Linked DNA regions of Homo sapiens: region 2 is linked to region 1. A link means that fine-mapping ties the variant in region 1 to the expression of a gene that starts in the linked region. Tissue or cell type: nasal epithelium. Region 1 holds a variant in brackets; the other region holds the start of a gene. All regions are shown on one strand. Distances are from middle to middle.

What was found. PIP is the estimated chance that this variant, and not a neighbour inherited with it, causes the effect.
Region 2: NIPAL2 starts here. The variant in region 1 is fine-mapped to the expression of NIPAL2 in nasal epithelium (TOPMed, PIP 0.98).

Annotation. Positions count from the first base shown.
Region 1 is chr8:98,186,902-98,198,319 of GRCh38, reverse strand. NIPAL2 (NIPA like domain containing 2) reads left to right here. Exons shown (of 11, transcript NM_001321635.2): 9 at 2,315-2,378; 10 at 3,498-3,592; 11 at 5,230-8,494. The coding sequence ends at 5,342. The region is part of intron 2 of NIPAL2-AS1 (NIPAL2 antisense RNA 1); the gene reads right to left. It also overlaps the pseudogene RNU6-914P. Among named protein-coding and RNA genes, the nearest start is that of NIPAL2-AS1, 16 kb to the right of the region's middle. The variant G/A (reference allele first, on the strand shown) is at 4,936.
Region 2 is chr8:98,290,924-98,299,964 of GRCh38, reverse strand. It overlaps NIPAL2 (NIPA like domain containing 2), which reads left to right and starts at 5,730. Exons shown (of 11, transcript NM_001321635.2): 1 at 5,730-5,962. The coding sequence starts at 5,828. The region is part of intron 5 of LOC105375659 (a long non-coding RNA gene); the gene reads right to left. RefSeq lists a silencer at 5,491-6,210.

The sequences.
Region 1 (11,418 bases):
TAAGCCTGGATAACAACACATCTGTTTATGGCATGGGTTACTGAATATTTTAAACCCACTGTTGAGACCTACTGACCAGGAAAAAGAGTCCTTTCAAAATATTACTGCTTATTGTCAATGAACCTGATCACCCAAGAGCTCTTGTGGAGATGTACAAAGAGATGAATGTTGTTTTCATGCCTGCTAACACAACATTCATTCTGCAGCCCATGGATCAATGAGTAATTTTGACTTTCAAGTCTTATTATTTAAGAAATACATTTTGTAAGGCTGTAGCTGTCATAGATAATGATTCTGCCGATTGATCTTAGCAAAGTAAATTGAAAACTTTCTGATTTTCTTGATGTCATTAAGAACTTTTGTGATTCATGGGAGGAGGCTAAAATATGCACATTAACAGGAGTTTGGAAGAAGTCTATTCTAACCCTCCTGGATGATTTTGAAAGGTTCAAGACTTCAGAGAAGGCAGTAACTGCAGATGTGATGGAAATAGGAAAAGAACTAGAATTAGAAGTGGAGCCTGAAGATGTGACTGAACTGCTACAACTTCATAATCAAACTTTAATGGATGAGGAGTTGCTTTTTATAAAAGAGCAAACAAAGTGGTTTCTTAAAGTGGAAACTACTCTTGGTGAAGATGCTAGGAACATTGTTGAAATGAAAACAAAGGATTTAGAATATTTCAGTAACTTAGTTGATAAAGCAGCAGCTGTGTTCGAGAAGATTAAGTAGAGATTTTGAAAGAATTTCTACTGCAAGTCAAATGCTGTCAAACAGTATGGCATGCTACAAAGAAATCTTTCATGAAAGAGTTAATCGATGTGGCAAACTTCATTATTGTCTTATCTTAAGAAGTTGCCACAGCCACCCCAACCTTCAGCAACCACCACCCTGATCAATCAACAACCATCAACACTGAGGAAAGTCCCTACAACTAGCAAAAAGATAGGACTCACTGCAAGCTCAGATGATCATTAGCATTTTTAGCAATAAAGTATTTTAATTAAGGTATGTACTTTTTTTAGACATAATGCTATTGCACATTTGATAAACTACAGTACAGTGTAAACATAACTTTTATGTACACTGGGAAACCAAAAATTTAGTGTGACTTGCTTTATTGAGAGATTAGCTTTATTGTGATGTGGTCTGGAACCAAACCCACATATCTCCAAGATACACCTGTACGAAGAAGTACATTGCTGCTTTACTGAAGAAAAAAATTGAAAAAAAAAAAAGAGAAAAAAGATGTAGAACCAACTTGAAATGCCCTTAAAGAAATGAATATTATGGTATATCGTTTAAAATAACATGAAAACATTAAAATGATTATAAGGAAGTATGTAATAACCTGGAGTGTGCTTCAGAAAGTTTCATTCATTCAACAAATATTCATTAGAACTGGACATGGCTTCTTCCTGTAAGAAGTTCATTCCCTAGGTAAGGAGATAAGGTGAAGAATGAGAAAGCTCCTTGAGGATAGGTCTCTGTCTTGTCATTTCTCCAAGACCTAGAGCAGTGGCTGACGCACAGCAGACGTTCAATAAATATTGGTTGGCTGGCTAACAAGGATAACACCACACACATAAAAAATTAATTCCAGGCAACATATAACTTAAAGATATCTTAACAAAAACTCTATGAAGGCTTTGGAACTTTACAGAAGAAATCATTGAGACCAAGACGGAGAGAAGCAAAGTTCATCAAAGTAGATGATGCATCCTTGTTTACCTTTGGAAGACCAGAAGAAGATGAGAGGGGGCTTGGCAGTGGGAAGTAGAGCTAAGGTAGCACTTCAGCTGCTAGAGTGTGCTTTGGCACTTGAGTCGCCATGTGGCCAGACCAACAGATCACTGGGCATCTCCACGAGTGACAGCATGGGTGGCAGCAGCTGGCCTGAGGTGGACCTGCCATGTCAGAGGCCCCAGAGTCTACCCAGACTCTCAGGCCAGGCTGGCTGACCCCTGACCTAAAACTGCAGGTGGGGAATAGTTGCTAGAGTGTTGTTTTCTTGTATGTTCCAGTTGGGCAATCCTGGGCTGGATGAGAAATTTCTGCTTGCAAATATATGTCAATTATGTTTCTTTTATAATAATGATAATTATATCAGATTTACAAATCTATGTTCTTTTTGGAATAATTCAGAATGTGTGGCATGCAAATTTTCTTAAACTAAACTGCTGAATGTGCATTTTAAGGATGACTAAATTTACTTTGAAAAAATAACATATTAACATAATTTTACAAACAATATTTAGCTATTATAAATAACCTTACTTCAAAATCAATTTTGTCTTCTTTTCCTGTGTTACAGGTATCATATTTTATCAGGAATTCCTTGGTGCTCCTTTTCTCACTGTATTTATATATCTTTTTGGGTGAGTAAATGTCTCAGAGGTAAAGCATGTGAAATTCTATTACTTTTACGTAGGATTTTCGGCATTGTACCGGAGGTATAGAAAATTGGAAAATAATATAAGAAACATCAGTTTCCTGAGCTCCTAAAAGAAACATATTTTTTAACTTAAGGCCCTAAACAGGGCTCAGCGTCTTTGGCTTTGTGACTTAGGTATATCTCTGCTGTTCTGAAACATTGGGGATTTCCAATTCCAGGCCAAAGACAAGATACATCCACTGGCCCTTGTAGTTACTGCACGACCTTTCTGTACTGTATCAGACCTACTTCGCTCTTGGGAACCCCTAGATTAGATCTAAATTAGAGAATCATGATCCTCTAGGGTCGCCCAAAATAAAAGGCCAAGATGGGCAGATCCCTTGCTTTAGTCATGATAATATCAGGTTGGTAGCATCCCTTTCTTGTGTTAAGAGTGTGCAGCTTGAGCTCTCCCTAGAGATTTGGTGGGCATCATTGCTAGCATTGCTTGCAAACAGAGAGCAGAACTTTGACAATATATCACCAGTGTATAGGAGCTTCCATGACTCCATGAGGCACTTCATTAAATGTTTAGCTGCTCCTTGATCTAGTAGTCAGCATGATCATTGTTATGCAAACTTGAGCCTAGGCTATTTTCGGTGTAGGAAGCCATCTATCTTGAAAATTCAATTTCATAAGATAATTGGGCAAGGCCAAACTTCTGAGGTCTGGAAATTATGACTACTCTTATGGCCAAGGAAAACTAGATTTCTTAGAAAATTAAAGAATAAATTATTTTTTCTCTTGTGTCACATGCCAGAAATGGATCTGGGCGTGCATGGGCAGAAAATGAGACAGGGTGTCCCCAAGGGTTTTGAGCCTGAGTTAGCCCCCAGATGGTAAAAACCTGGGCCAGAGATCTACTGGAATCTGCCCAAGTCTTGGTTCTGGGTAGAACTATTGGCTGTGCTAATTAAGACAAGTACTAGGAAGCTTACCATGAGAAACTGGAAGAACAAAACCAATGGGATTTATGTCATCATGTAGAATATGGAGCTCAGTTATTTAATACCATGAGTCTGTTTCAGTGTTCTTGTATTCTTTATTAATATTATCCTTACAGGTGTTTTCTGTCATTCCTTGGTGTATTTTTGGTCACAAGAAATCGAGAAAAGGAACATCTGCAACAGTCTTATATTGATTTTGGAAATATTCCTGGTAAAATCATATATTCTTTATAGTGGAAAATTTGATCCTTATAAATGAATAGTTATTGGTATTATTTTGGGTGGTAAGTTAATATAAAACATAATTCTTATCCTAAAAAATGTACATTTAATAATGAAACCAAAGGTGCTATTTTCAGTGTAAATGTTTCTAATAATTTATTGAATGTCAGTTTTGCACAGAACTGGGGATATAAAAGAACTGACCATGTTTCCTCGATTTGGGTGATTTGGAGGATTTCCTTTTTGGGTTTCCTTAAATTGGAAAAGGGTAGAGAAAAGAGTAGCAATGACTACCAGCAGCAGACCCCTGCCACTTTGAGAGCCTTGAAGGAACATCCAAGGACAAAGGGTAGGCAGCTAAGGAGCATGTCTTGGGGGAAGCCTGAGGTGGCCTGTGCACTGTGGCTCAGGACAGTCACCAAAACATGAGTAGTTTCTTCCCCCTTCCTCACCCCGCCTACCCAGAGAGCAAACACTCTTTCCCGTTCTCACTCTCACTGAGAAATAACTCGCCTAGTCATGTAGACAACAAAAGCCAAGTCCAGGACAAAGGAAACTGTCTGCTGTGTCACCTCTTCCCCTGTCCACCCGCCCTCAGCACTCTCCAGCCTTACTGGGGATGTAGGGGGACCTATAGGTTTCCAGGCAGGAGTGGAGACATTCTCACAGCTTTCTCCACCATTCTGTTAGCACCATGCCTGTGAAGCAAAAACTAGGGAAGCCTCATCCCTAAGACTGAGAAATATGGCCCCATGCAATGAATTCTGTGTTCTCTTTGCCATTCGAGCCATCTTATCTGCTGGGAGCAGTCAATGAAAGAATTGGCATCAGTGGCAAAGGTGCTTGTGATAGAAGCCTTATATGGTTAGAGGTTCTTTGATAGGAAATAAAGTTTGACTTTTTTTTTTTTTTTTGAGATGGAGTCTTGCTCTGTTGCCCAGGCTGGAGTGCAGTGGCACAATCTCAGCTTACTGCAGCCTCCCCCTCCCGGGTTCAAGTGATTCTCGTGTCTCAGCCTCCCGAGTAGGCACCACCATGCCCGGCTAATTTTTGTATTTTTAGCAGAGGTGGGTTTTCACCATGTTGGCCAGGCTGGTCTCGAATTCCTGACCTCAAATGATTCGCCTGCCTCGGCCTCCCAATGTGCTGGGATGATAGGTGTGAGCCACTGCACCGAGCCTGATTATTTTTAACTCTATTTTTTATTTCACAAAGCTCAGTGCATAGGCTCCGTAGTAGCTTTAGAAGTCACTATCAAAGGCTATTTTTCTATGTTGTTATATGCATTCGACGTGGAAAAGAAGACACAACCCCAGAGAGAAAGGCTTGGAG[G/A]TGAGTGAATGCTTCATGTGAATCTCCAGACTAAACCCACCTGATTTCCATGGCCAGCATGTAGATCCTGTGGGGTGGGGATAGTGGCTCTGACACAGACAATTCGCTATCACATAGCTACAGACATGGCGTTTCAAGGGCCTTTTCTTCCTTGATATTCATCTCTTCTCTTTAGAGAGTGCCCACATAGTATAAAAGAGAGGTGATAAAATGTGGCCTAGATTGAGGAGAAATTATTAAGACTTATTTTTCTGTAAGACCTCAAAAGATTCTCTATGATTATTATCTCCACAGGGAAACAAATGTTGGACAAAATACAACCAGATTCACATAGCTTATCCTATGGAACTTTGCCTGATGGAAGTGACTCAACAAAGAGCCAAAGTGGAGAGAAGAAAGAGGTCTAAATGCTGAGAAGGATGGCTGTTGGCCTGTTATTCGATACCACCTTTTTAAAAAATTGCACATGTTCAATTTGTGTCAGCAGCTCTTTTATAAGCTAACATGTGCTAGCATTCATTTCAGTCCTTTCCCCCACCTCAGCGTCTATGGACAATCGGGGACTTCCTAAGCTCTGACAGTCTAATATTTCCATGGAATGTGATTTGGAGTGTTCCCCACACCCTGGACCTCTCCCTAGTGATTATCTAGCCAGCTACACCTTACTCAGAGCCCGGCTGCTCTAGCAGGAATGTTGCACAGAAACATACATTTGCGGTTTGGCCACAGGTCGCATAGGTGGCTTCTCCCACGGGTAGTGTCAGTTGCTTCACTTTAAAAAGTCACTTCAGCCCCACAACCTCACTCCCAAAAGAAAGGTTTGAGAGCGCTCATTTTTTTTCTAAGACACCTTTTATAAGCCTCCCTATAAAAATCTCACCTTTCAAGTACTAAGTTAGAATTGCAAGTCATCTTTTCTGAAAACTAATGCTATCAAAGTCCTCCTTTGAAAATTAAGGGTCTCTTTAAAATTAGAATTTATAAATGGCATTCAGTGATAGTGTACACCAAAATTAAAAGACCTTGACTGGTGGGCTTTTTACGTGTAAGGAAGAGGAAGTTTAAGAAGTAGGACTCTGCTTGTTTCAGTAGCCCATGTACTAAAATAGGAACAATGCAGAGATTAGCACAGCCCCTGCACAAGGCTGACACATAAATTCATGAAGCGTTAGAGACAAAAAGTAGGACTAATGTTTGTTTATTTTTTAATAAAAATCTAGAATGGTGATGTTTTCTTCAGCTGTATGATTCTATCATACTTGAAACTGAAGAAAAATTTAATATCCTATGTCTTTTTTATAGATCTTATAATTTATCAAGTGGATTTATATGTCTTATTCTCCATATAAGTCTAAAAAATCACATTTAAATTCTTAGTGATAGTTTCACTACACATCATTTCTTCCCAAAGTCATTACCTCAAGCTTTGTAAATTCTTCTAGATAAAAGGAGAGTTGTGATTAGAGAACTGAATTTCAGCCATTTAAACCTGTAGACATAGAAAACAACCCAGTGGTCAAACCTGAGCTTCAAGAGGAAGCCCAAGTCCTCCTGTTTCCTGAATGGCTTTTCCACTCCAATTCATCACATATCTGCTAAGACACATTTGCAGGTAGAATCCATAATAATATCTGTTATTTATGATCTACCTAATATTTAAAGGAGAAGAAAAGAAGTAGCCTTCGTTGCAGCCAACATCCAACAATAAGTCCCACCCTTAATGACATTTCAAAGCCTTCAGATCACTTCTGACATGTCTGTCCAATATCATTCCAATCAATAGTCTTGCATTTAAATAGGTTGTTTAACTCGGTGGTATTGAGACTGTAACCTTAATGGCTCAGGTCTTTTAGCTTTGTTCTTTGTCATAATCTGCACTCCTGGCCAGACTGACCAAACCTGGCTGCAAAGGAAAGAGATTTGAATTGATCACCAATGTATGAAAAATACAGAACCCATGTCTGGCTCCTAAACTCCTGGTAATAATTCCCGCCATCGTAGCAAGTGTCCCATGCATTCAGATAAAGCAGTCATAATTTATGGTGTATTTTACCGAATTGGTCCAGCATATTGGTCCTACAAGGCTCAGCCAAGAAATGTATCTGGTGCCTTAAACTACAGATTTCTGGTGACTCTTAAAACTGGTTTACAAAGATTGAGAAAACAATTAGATTGAAGAGTTTTGCTTCAAGTAGACCTGCATTCATAGCTAGAGTGCATGAGATTTTCAGCACTGTAGAATTTCACACAGGCACAAGCATAACACCAGTACTTTAGCAGCCGCCAACAGTTGCATCTATTAAACGTTTTGAGAAATGACATTGACTTATGCACATTTAAGCAATCAACAATGTTTTAGAAGTCCAGGTAACATATAAAATATATTCAGACCTAGTTTTACTTTCCATATTGTTGCTCCAAAGTAAGGTAAATAGGAGTTTTAGTTGTACTGGCCTGTAAGATTTTTTAAATTACACAGTGCATGACAACAACTAAAGCCAACTCAGTCCTTCTCTTGGCATTGTGAGTTGAGGACCTTTAGCCAACTGTTAGCTCATCTGACTATCTGTCTAGACCAAGGGTCGGCAAAGTTTTCAGTAAAGACCCACAGAGTACATATTTTGGAGTTTGTGTTGTCTGTACCAACAGACAGACATGGTGTCTGTCCCAACTACCCAACTCTGCCATTGTAGCACTAAAGCAGCCATAGACAAGATGTAAACAGAAGAGCATGGCTGTGTTCCAGTAAAACTTTATTTACAGGCCAGGCATGGTGGCTCATGCCTGTAATCCCAGCACTCTGGGAGGCTGAGGCTGACAGATCATCTGAGGTTAGGAGTTTGGGACCAGCCTGGTCAACATAGTGAAACCCCATCTCTACTAAAAGTACAAAAATTAGCCAGGCATGACGGTGGGTGCCTGGAGTCCCAGCTACCTGGGAGGCTGAGGCAGGAGAATCACTTGAACCCGGGAGGTGGAGGTTGCAGTGAGCCGAGATCATGCCATTGCACTCCAGCCTGGGCGACAGAGTAAGACTGTCTCAAAAACAAACAAACAAACAAACAAACAAAAACAAGTGGCCAGTCTGTGAGCTATAGTTCCCAACACCTGGTCTAGACTCTTCTGCCCTTGCTCTGCAGCTTCTTTCCTGTTGATTGGGCATTCAGGGAAGGAGTTTAAAAAGTGACACTCATGGCTCATGACAAATGAGATACTTTGGGAGTGTGGAAACATGGCTTGATATTTGCCTTCAGATATTTTTGCTTATATAAGTTCTAAATGGAAGTGATAAGTTCATTCTTAGGGTCCAAGTTGAAAGGCAGTGGTTCTTTTGTGAACACCACTAACTACATTCGAAAAGCCTCTCCAATTCCACATTCCAAGTCTATAACAGCTTTGGAAATGAGTAACAATGACCTCTCATGTAGTAGATTAAAGCAGAGGCCTTTGCCATATGATTGTTTTTTGGCTTAAATGTTTGCTTGCCCTGTAACTGTAATACTTTGGTTACCAGAATCACTTGAAAACAAATACAATAAAAAAATTTCTCAAGCAGTGACCCAGAATGTATTCTTCCCCCTCTTCAATACCCCACACACTCCTAGAGATTCTGTTCTGTGGCAATGTAAGAAAGAGAAAGGCAGATTTCATAGATGAGTACAATTTCAGTGCTATGAAAGAGTAATGGTGGTAATGTGTAAGTTTGGCTCCAAAGGACGCAGGTGTAATGGTGGACATAACTCAAAGAGATAGAAATGTCGAGCCAAGTTCCCTAAGCCAAGCACCCTCTTTGTGCTCCTGTTTCCAAGCACGCAACTCATCCAGGAATGGTGAGTGTACACACTCAGCCATGCTGAAGGCTGCCTCAGTGCTTGCCAATTTAACAGTGATATGGTGGACATAAATATAGCAGTTACTGACATGAACCTTCCCAACACTCTTCCAGACTGCTTTACTTAAACTCTGTGGCTGGTTATAGAGGCAGTCTTTGCACTGGGCGGCTGCAAGGCTAATGCACATGTTTGGCACCAGTGAATGTGAGTCCTTTAGTGAGGTTGCTAGATAAACACCACACATTTTGAACTATTAGAATAAAATCTCAAAATTGAACCCAACGTGATTGTATGGGGAATTTAGAGGCTGCTTCTAATCGTTAGACTCATCAACAGTCTGGCTCTTATTATGACCATCTTGAAGTAAAACAATAAAATAAAATTCCACACATACACAGTTTCCATGCAAATATAGACCAGCCTTGAGCTATTAAACCTAGCATTTTAGCAATTGTGGTAAATGCAGGGAAGAGCCTTTCCACCCAGGAATTTTTGAGTCTGTTCCCTTTCTCACCAGCCTCAGGGTACCACACAACATGATGTCCTGTGCCAGAAGAGCAAATCAGTTACAGGAGCTGTGGCCCATCCAAGGAAGCTTTTTTTTTTTTTTCCTGAGAGGGAGGAAACTCCTCCTTTAATGTTGGTCCTTATTGAGAGTTAATGAGTCCCAACCACAATGTAAAAGAGAAATATCAATCCCAATATCAAATAAATGTGGTGTTTTGGGGTGCACCCTGCTGGGCCAGGTGCTGCCAAGAGTTTCATGGAGTTCCAGACAAGATGTCAGATAGTCTCCATGTTCCAGGAAAGAATCTCCTTCCCAGGGAGCTGACAAGTGCATAGCCAAGAAAGAGCCCTCCATTCCTGGTGGGACCAGCAAGCATGGACCGAAGCCACTTTGCACATTTGAGCTGCTGCTATCCAAACATGAACAAATCCATCCAGTGTGCACGCATCCCACTTTCAAGCCTTTCCCTCATGGTTCTAATTTGAAAACCAACCTCAGAAATGTTCTGAGGCTTGGGCTCTACTCCCTCTATCCAAAGCACCTCACCTAAACCTTCTAAACACTGTGCATGAACAAGGAGATGAATCAACTCAAGAACTCTTGACCCCAGGGACTCAAAGCCTGGGTTATTTGCCTGATTATAGACTACTAGCTCAATTACCACATGACTCAATCTTAGCAAATGTTCATTAATTCACTCAAATATAATCAATCACCTACAATTTTCAATGTAACATGCATTTTTTAAATAGACTTTATTTTGTAGAGTAGCTTTAGGTCACAGCAAAATTGAGCAGAAGGTACAGAGAATTGCCATCTGCTTCCTGCCCCTTCACAGGCACAGCCTCTCCTATTAGCAACATCCCCCACCAGAGTGGTACATTTGTTACAATCAATGAGCCTACATTGGCACATCATTATCACCCAAACTCCCTGGTTTACGTTAGGGTTCGCTCTTGCTGTTATACATTCTACGGGTTTGGACAAGTGTATGGTGACATGTGCCCATCATGATAGTATCATACAGATCAGTTTCCAAAACCCTCTGTGCTCTGCCTAGTCGTCCCTCCATCCCTGCACGCCCTGGCAACCACTGATCTTTTTACTGTCTCCAAAGTTTTGCCTTTTCAGGAATGTCATATGTTGAAATCATATAGTATGTAGCTTTTTCAAATTGGCTTCTTTCACTTAGTAACATGGATTTAAGGTTCCTCCATGGCTATTTACACTTAGTTGCCCATTTCTTTTGAGTGCTGAATAGTATTCCATTGCCTGGACGTACCACAGTTTATTCGCCTATTCGTCTACTTGGTTGGACAAGTAGATAAATAGATATCATCTTGGAAGGACATCTTGCAATTGCAAAAAGCTTCCAAGTTTTTGCAATTTAAAGTTATTGGGAATATGATGATGAATTAGACCAGCTCTTTGTGAGTTGCCTGTCTAGTTAGAGAAACCATAGCTATCATTTATTGAGCCCTTACTGCTAATCTTTTACTTGTGTTATTCATTTCATCCTTAAAATTCTCTATTAGAGAGGTCCTGATCCCCACTTTACAGATTAGAAAACCATGATAAGAGGCAGGGCAGGGATTAGGGTAAGTCAAGAGAGGCCCAAGGCACACAATTTAATGAAGCTTATGAAAATCTGACTTGTGGGGTGGTGAGAGGACCCTGAGAGTGAGTGCCTCTTTAAATGTTGTGCCCTAGGTGCCTCACTGTGTCCCAGTCCTGGGAAAAGGAGTTAAGTGACTTGACCAGTATCATTCAGCTGGCAAGTGGCGGAGCTGGGATTTGAACCCAGGACATCTAGCTCTGTAACCCACACTCTTAGCACAAGTGGCCAAAGTACCTACACTGTGCAACTGAATGTTGAAAATGCCTTAAGAGACTTAAAGGGCATGGGAGCTTGGAGGAGAGAAAGGTCTAGGGCACAGTCTTCAAAGGGATTCAGGATTGTAGTGGGTTAAATGGTGGCCCCTGAAACAATATGTCCATGTCCTAAACCCTGCAACCTGTGAATGTGACCATATTTGGAAATAAGTTCTTTGCAAAAGAAATTCAGGATCTTGAGATGAAAGCAACCGGGATTACCTGGGTGGCACCTAAATCCATTGACAAGTGTCCTTAGACAGAAAAGGC
Region 2 (9,041 bases), 100 kb before region 1:
TGTAAAATATATTATGGTTATAAAAAAGCACACTTGACATAAGTGTATACCTTTAAGAATAATAATAGTACAAATGCCCATATAACACATAACCCAATTTAGAAAATAGAACGTTGCCAAACCTTTCAACCACTATCAGAATTTTTGTGTTTATCATTTTTTGCCCCTTCCTTCCTTCCTTCCTCTCTCTCTTTTTCTTTCTTTCTTTTTCAGACAGGGTGTCACTCTGTACCCCAGGACAGAATGCAGTGGAGCCATCACGGCTCACTGTACCTATACAGATCTCACCATGTTGCCCAGGCTCGTCTTGAACTCCTGAGCTCAAATGATCAGCTCGCCTCCGCTTCCTAAAATGCTGGGATTACAGGCATGAGCCACAGCACCTGGTCTATCCTTTGCTTTTCATTAGGTCTTCCCACATATAGATAGATGTACTTCTAAACAATATATTGTCTAATTTTGCATGCTTTTGAATAATACTGAATATAATCTTCTATGGATTTGCTATTATTATGTTTGTGGGATTCATCCATGTTGCTGTGGCTGTTAGGTGGTTGTCATTCAGGTAATTTCATTGCTGTGTTCCATTATATAAATGTATCAAAATTCATTTGCCCACTATTCCTGCTAATGGACATTTGAGCTGCTTCCAGTTTTTTGTTTGTTTGTTTGTTTGTTTGTTTGTTTGTTTTGCTGTTACAAAGAGTGCTGTTATTCTTATACATCTCTTCTGCTGTCCAGGTACGGAAGTTTCTCTGGGGTATGTACATAAGAGTGAAATTCACATGTACATCTTCATCTTTACCAAATACTGTCAAACTCTTTCCAGTGTCAATAGCATCAGCACTAAATAAGAGTTTCTTTTGCTCCACATCCTTATCAACACTTGGTATGCAAATTAAAAATTTTTTTTTTTGCCAACCAGCAGGTGTAAAATGGTTCTCATTGGAGATATTATTTTGTATTTTTCTGATTACTGGTGAAATGGAAGTATTTTATATGTTTATTAGCCATTTATAGTTTTTCTTATGAAGACCACCTGTTTATATTTTTGCCCATTTTTCTACCAGTTGTCTGACTTTTTCTTATTGACCTGAAGGAGTTATTTATATATTCTGGATGTGAATCCTTGGTCAGTCACATGTATGAGAAATAAAAGTTCTGAGTTTGACTTTTGTTTTGTTTTGTTTTGTTTTGTTTTTTGTGGCAGGGTCTCACTCTATTGCCCAGGCTGGAGTGTAGTAGCATGATCACAGCTCAGGGCAGCCTTGACCTCCCGGGCTCAGGTGATCCTCCTGCCTCAGCCTCCCCAAGTAGCTGAGACTACAGGCATGCGCCACCATGCCTGGCTAGTATTTTTGTATTAAGATTCTCAGTTTCTGACTTATCTTTTTACACTTTATGGTGCCTATTGATGTATAAAAGTTCTTAGTTTGGCTGGGCATGGTGGCTCATGCCTGTAAACCCGCACTTTGGGAGGCCAAGTAGGCAGATTGCTTGAGCCCAGGAGTTTGAGACCAGCCTGGGCAACATGGTGAAACCCCATTTCTACAAAAAAACCCAAAAATTAGCTGGGCGTCATGGTGTGAGCCTGTAGTCCCAGCTACTCATGAGGCTGAGGTGGGAGGATGGATTGAGCCTGGGAGATCAAGACTTCGTCCTGCCAAAATTGTACCACTGCACTCCAGCCTGGGCAACAGAGCAAGACCCTGTCTCGAAAAAAAAAAAAGTTCTTAGTTTTATTGTAATTGCACTTATGAATCTTTGTCTATGTGGATTGTATTTTTTAATTTGTTTAAGGGATGCTTCCCTATTGTAAGGTTATAGCCGGCACCTATTGAGTACTTTCTATGTTTCGGGTACTCCTTATCATCTCCCTTTTACAGGTGATAAAGACAAGGCTCAGAGAAATTGAGCAACTAGATGAGGTCATACAGCAAATAAGCAGTGGAGTCAGGATTTGAACCCAGACAGTCTGCCTTGTGTTTGCACTTTAACAATTGCCAAACTGTTGTTTATAGAGATGATGTCATATGTTATTCTATAAGATTCAAAGTTTCGCCTCTCTCATCAAAGTCTCTAATCTGGACTTGGCTTATGATGTGAGATACCTGAATTAATCCATACCCTTCTCTACTTTGGCCCCTTAAAAGCTCCTAACTTGAGTAATGCTTATTGTAACACAACTAGTATTGACTGAATTGTGCTAGAGATGAATTTTAAAAAAAACATTTTATTCATGGGAACAATCAACAATGCGGACTACTAGAGAGGGGAGGGAAGGAGGAGGGCACAGGTGGAAAAACTACCTACTGGTACTATGCTCACTACTTGGTTGCAAGAAACCCATGTAACAAACCTGCACATGTACCCCTGTATCTAAAAAAAAAGTTGAGAGAAAAAAAAAAGCTGTTTTGTTAATGCTGCCAGTGACTGATCCCAGGCAAGGTAGGCAAAATCTAACCCTGCTCTCTAAGTAAATGATTTGGCACCAGAGTAGAGTTCTTCAAATTAACTGAGGAAGACAGACTTCCACGTTTCAGCCCTTTTTTTAGCTTTTGGCATCCCGTAAAGTGAACAGGATATCCCCTGAAGAAATCCCACGAGAGGTAGAGGCCGTCACAAAGTACGGAACAATCTCCACAGCTCTGCCTACACTGCTGGGACCAAAATAGTTCACATGGCATTCCTGCCGCCTCCTTGTGAACTGTGTGGGAAGGAACGCTGGTCACGAATTCTTCGTTTCAACCACCCACACACACTAGGACAGCAGCAACAGCAGTGACATCTTGGAATCTAGAGAACACCACGTGGTAGGCTGTACATCAAATCTTCTCTGCATCATGTACCATCTTCCTCCAAAATTAGAGGTTTTAAACAAATGTAAAGAAATTGAAAATGTTTTTTTAAATTAAGAAATAAAATGGGAACAAGTTGAGTATAGCAGAGTATCAACTAAAGGGAAAAAAATCAAGCTTTTAAAGAATTAAACTTAGTTTTATTCAGAAGTCTCACTGAATTGTTTGAGGCCAGGAGTTCTAGACCAGCCTGGGAAACATAATGAGACCCCATCTCTACAAAAAATTAAAAAAAAAAAAAAATTGTCTGGGCGTGGTGACTCACGCCTGTAATCCCAGCACTTTGGGAGGCTGAGGTGGGTGGATCATGAGGTCAGGAGATCGAGACCATCCTGGCTAACACGATGAAACCCAGACTCTACTAAAAATACAAAAAATTAGCTGGGCGTGGTGGCGGGCATCTGTAGTCCCAGCTACTCAGGAGGCTGAGGCAGGAGAATGGCGTGAACTCGGGAGGCGGAGCTTGCAGTGAGCCGAGATTGTGCCACTGCACTCCAGCCTGGGTGACAGAGCAAGACTCTGTCTCAAAAAAAAAAAAAGTGTGGACTTCATTATGGCAATAGGGAGGCTTCAAGGCATTTTAAACCAGAAAGTAACACAATCCATTTAGTATTTTGCTTGTTAGCAACTGTACAACTACTTACAATCTGGCTGATAGAAAAATACTAGAGTGGTTGTACCAGGGTTGACTGGTTCCCCTCCCCCATAACCCCATGGCATTCCCACTCATCCTGGTTGGTAGAGCTTACCTCTCACTAGGTTGGAAATACCCAAGAATCACTTTCCCAGCCTCCCTTGCTGGTAGAACATGGGCATGTGACCCAGTCCCAGCCAATGGGATCTGAGGTGAAAGGATGCCAGGAGGATTCTGGAAAAGGCTTTCCTCCCTCAATGGACAAGACCAGTACCTCAGGGATAGCAGAGCAGAAAGGTGGAAGTGACGACATAATAGAACCACATAGAGACACATTCCTCTGGAGATAGCAGATAATTATTGTTTAAGCCACTTTTATTTGGATACTCTGTTACTTGCACCCTAAAGCATGTGAAGAGAAAGAAGCATTAATGAAGTCACCAATATCAATGAATGTGATGTTATAGAAAACTTATCAGACAAGGCATGGCAGCTCACACCTGTAATCCCACCACTTTGGGAGGCCGAGGTGGGACAACTGTTTGAGGCCAGGAGTTCTAGACCAGCCTAGGAAAAATTGCGAGACCCTGTCCCTACAAAAAAATAGAAAAATATTAGCCAGGGCCAGGTGTGGTGGCTCACACCTGTAATCCCAGCACTTTGGGAGGCCAAGACAGGGGGATCACTGGAGGTTAGGAGCTTGAGGCCAGCCTGACCAACACCGTGAAACCCTGTCTCTACTAAAAATACAAAAATTAGCCGGGCTTGGTGGTGTGCACGTGTAGTCCCAGCTACTCAGGAGGCTGAGGCAGGAGCATTGTTTGAACCCAGGAGGCAGAGGTTGCAGTGAGCTGAGATTGTGCCACTGCACTGCAGCCTGGGCAAGAGAGAGAGACTCTATCTAAAAAAAAAAAAAATTAGCTGGGCATGGTGGCATGCACCTGTATGTAGTCCCAGGTGGGAGGATCACTTGGGCCCAGGAATATGAGGCTAAAGTGAGTCAAGATCACACCACTGCACTCCAGCCTGGGCAACAGAGCAAGACCCTGTCTCAAAAAATAAAATAAAATGTAATATAACAAATAGAGACCTTTTTCCTTCAGATATTTATTTGAAGTAAATCAGCCTCTTAAAATTGGGAATAGTTACCTACAATTGTTAGCTGTTCACTGAACATCTCGAGTGCTTAAGCAAGAAACTACACAATTTCTGAGACGACATGTCTTGTTTTTTCTGTATGTGAAATGACTTTTTCTCACTCTTTTCTCTCATTTGCACATTTCCCCTAAGAAACACTGAAAACTGTCCCTGCTCCCTTCTAGGCAGCAATTCTCTTTTCTTGAAGGTCTCTCTTTCATGAACTCATGGAAGTCAAAGCACATTATCTAAGAAAAACCTCAGCATTGTGTAAACAAAAGAAGGCAACTATCAGCCTTCAGGCAACAGTATAGAATCATGGTTTTTTTAAAGTGAGAAATACCCTACAGATCATTTGTGGTCACACATTAGAATTTGAATACAGGTAAAACCAGAACATCTCGTTAGAGTTCTTAAGATTAATAACAACATTTATCTTTCATCCTAAATTCATATATACAGTAGCTGGCAACTTTTCAGCAACTCCACCTGATCCCATCTGAAGCAAACCCAATCCAGTCATCGCACACTGGGGTCCTATGGCTACCACATTCCTCATTCAAGGAATATTTACTAAGGATCTATCAAGCACTGGCACTGAGATTCAATCGCTCGGATCTTTTTTTCTCATATTGCTTACAATATTTCTGGGAACTCATGACTTTTTCATATGCAATCAATTTTTAAAATATCGGTGAGAAACACTACATATGTGATAGAGGACTGGAATTGCCAGGTAGAGATGGGAGATGATAGCTGCTTTGGGTTAGTCAGTGTCTCCTCCTCTTCCATTGACTTGGACAAATGTTTACAACGGAGATGATCTGATTCTGGCCCCGACAGGCGCGGGGACCCGTTGCGGACGGCCGCGGGGATTGCCCCCTTGGGCAGTGCGGCCCCGAGGATGCAGACACTGGCCCAGCGGAAGGAGGGCGCGGTGCGAGCTGGACGGCCCCGGGAGGCCGCAGACCGCCGGGCTCCCCGAGGACACCTCGCACCGGAGGAGGAGAGGAGGCAGCGCCCGGCCAGGCTGGGAGCACCTACGGCCGCGCGGGGGCGGGAGCCAGGTGGCCTCGGCGCGCCCGCCTCGCCCGGGCACCGAGCAGGAAGTGGCTGCGGCGCGGCCTCCTCGCGGTGCAACAGGGCGGGGAGGCGGCCGCAGCCCGAGCCGGAGCCCGAGCGCCGGGAGCGAGACCTCATGGCAGCGGTGGCGCCCGCGGGCCCCGGGGACTCCGCCTCGGCCGCCCTGGACGAGCTGTCACTGAATTTCACGTACGGGGCACCAGGCGCCGGCAACGGCTCCCTCTCGGGCGACTGGTACCGCAGGAACCAGGTAAGGGCCGCCCCGCAGCCACCGCAGCCCGGTGGGGACGCGGCCAGGGCGGCTGGCTCCGGGCGCCTCTGCGCCTCGGCCGCTTTCCTGCCAGCTCTCAGGAAGACACCCGGCCTCTCCGAGTGGGAAGAGGTGACATGCAATGTTTCCCGCATTGACCTAAGTCCGCCTCATCCGGAAGCGCGGGGGTCCGCCCAGTCTTCCTCTCCCGGGCACCCGGCACTGGGAGTGGGCGCCCAGGTCTTCGGCCTTGACCTCAGCCACCCGTTCCTGGGACCTCCGGGTCCCGATCCCGCCTCCCCAGCCTGCGTCCGCCCTCTTCTCCCGGAAGGAATCTAGGAGTGTGGGGGCAATTCACTCATTTTCACCCCAGGATCCTTTTACAGTTAAAAGAAAAGAAAAAAGTGACACCCTGTTATCAGAAGCAGAAAACTCATTAAGGGCAGCCTAATGTCACCTCGCGCAGATGCCCTGCGTGTGTCCCTGGTATCTCAACACAGCTCTTCCATTTCCGTGCGAGGAACACATTTTCTCAGGTTGCATTTGCAGGACTCTCATTCTTTCCCACCGGCCCTTTGGGAAAACTTTGTTAACTTAAACAACGCCAGTTTACACTGGAAATATACATTTAACAAAATCAAAGGGACTTGGAGCCGCCCATTTATTTTTGGCTTGGTTTAAGATGAGGAAGTGTTCTGGCCAGCCCTTCCTCTAGCAGCGTTCATATTGCAACTAAGTTTTATCACGGTGGATTCCAGGCTTCCTCCTGTTTTCATTAAATGTGTTACTTTGTTCTTGTTCTTTAACAAAACCATGGATACTTTTATTTTTGCAACAATATAATCAGAAAATATTTGTTGCTGTTGTCCTAAATCGGAGAGTTTAACCAATTATCAAAGATCTGGATTCCTTTTATGCCTGAAGTGTTCTAAATATTAATTTCTGAATGCAGAAGAGAATATATTTGTATAAAGAATAAGTAAGATAAATAAGCATGTTCACTTTATTAGTTTTCAAGAGGGGAGAGTATTGCTTTAAGTCATTTCATCATAAAAGATATAAAAATAGGAAAAATGAGGGTACTCAGAGCCTCTTGATCAATGTTTGTAATCCAACCCCATTTCTCCTTTCTTCTACCCACAGGAATTACAAAGAAAAGCATCATTTTTATGGGAACTTGAATCTATCTATTATATTATTCTTTTATTAGAAGTATTCCCAATATAAGTTTAAGAATGAGTTATCTATCCCCTCTTGATTAAAAAAAAAAAAAAAATAGAGGGTTAGCAGATGTGATCATCCAAAAACAGGACATTGTTTTCACAGTGGAAACCTCTGTAGTCATTAGTTTTCTTTGACATTTCCTGGAATTCTTGATTGTCTTGGCTGTCTGATATCCAAACACAGATTATCATGTGACATAAATGTGAGGCAAATAAATACTGTTTGCAAGGCTTAATTTGCCTTTGACAGTGTGTATTTGTACAGGTTAGAAAGGATGTATCCAGAATGTGCTAATTGAAATTACTGAGCTGACATCTAAACTTTGCTGGTTTGAGATAAAACTGTATCAAGTTTTGCCATTATTGTGCAAATTTAGGCCCTCTTATAAGATGGTGGTATTTTATCTTTTCAGTAATTGCATTTGTGTTAAGCAAAAGTAAAAATTAATTTTTAAAAAGTTTACTCGAGAAGCATTTTATTGAGTGCCTCTGGTGTTGTCCAGGCCAGTAAAAATAAAATTGAGTCTAATTTTTCTTGTCTTTTTTGACACTGAATAGAAATGGCTGAAAATGGGTGTGGATACAGAAAAACAAAGTGTGAGATATAAATGTGTCACTCCCACAATCAAAATGAATGTTGGTTGCTAACTAGCCACAGCTTAATGATGCTTATTTGCTTGCCTCCATTGGTTTTATCACAACTAAAATATTTGCACAGTGTGTGTTGGCTGATAGCCTAGTTCTCTGTCCCTTTATCCCTTCCAAAGTGATTATCATCAAATCTGATCAATTAACCTTACTACATAGAAAAAGACAAACTTCCCTGGAATGCTTTCATGTAATACATGTTTAACAGTGGCCACTTAGAATCAATGTTGTCTAAGACAAAGGTGTGAGTGCTTCTGGAGGAAGAAACCTCAAAGCAACTCAAAAGTAGTAGTTCAGTGGGGGAAGATGTCTTAGGAGCAGGGAAGTGAAGTCTTTGCCCTTTGCACTACTCAGACGCTGTGTGCTTGGTGAAAAGCCTGGCCTATAGAAGTATAGAAGTGATGGAGTTGTGACAGGTAAACAAAAGGCACTTTATGTTTGATCCACAAGTTTTCAGTAGAGAAGGATAATGTTCCCAAGATGTTTATTGAGCTCCATGCTATGTACAAAGCACTACAGGGATATTCAATATAGTGCAAAACCCAAACTCTTCCTTCTGTGAATATTATTAGGTGTTTGGGAAAATGAGCTATGTAGGTAATGCCAAAACAAGGCAGTATGTTGTAAGTGTCATGTGAGTGATATAAAGTCCCATGGAAATTCAGAGCAAAGGGGCATTTGGCTGGGCCATCAGGGATGTTTTGTGGAGAGGTGGTATTTGAGCTGGATGGTTAATGATGGACAGGGTTTCATTGATAGGCATGCACAGTGTAGGGCACTGCAGGAAAGGAAAAAGCTTAGGGACCCAGAAGCAGCCCTCATGGCCAGGACTGGTGCCTTTCTGAATATTTTCCTTCCTAGAGTACAATTCAACTATCATTCTGGTTGCGGTGGAAGATGGAGACTGACTATAAGGTAGAAATATGGTTTGGGGTCTTGGATATAGTCATGGGTTGCTTTGAAGGACTGGTGACAAAGTTTGGACTTTACCTTGCAGACAGTGGGGAGCCATTGAAGATTTTTTTGAGCAGGAGTGCAGGAATCAAAGCAAATTAAATTTAAAAAAATTTAAATTAAGGCTAGCAGGATTCAGTTTTCAAACTGGCCAGCTGTGGACTAAATCCAGCCTACAGATACATCTTGTTTGACCAGCAGAGAGGCTTCAAAGTCTTCAATACATTGCCAACACTTAAAAATGAGAAGATTAA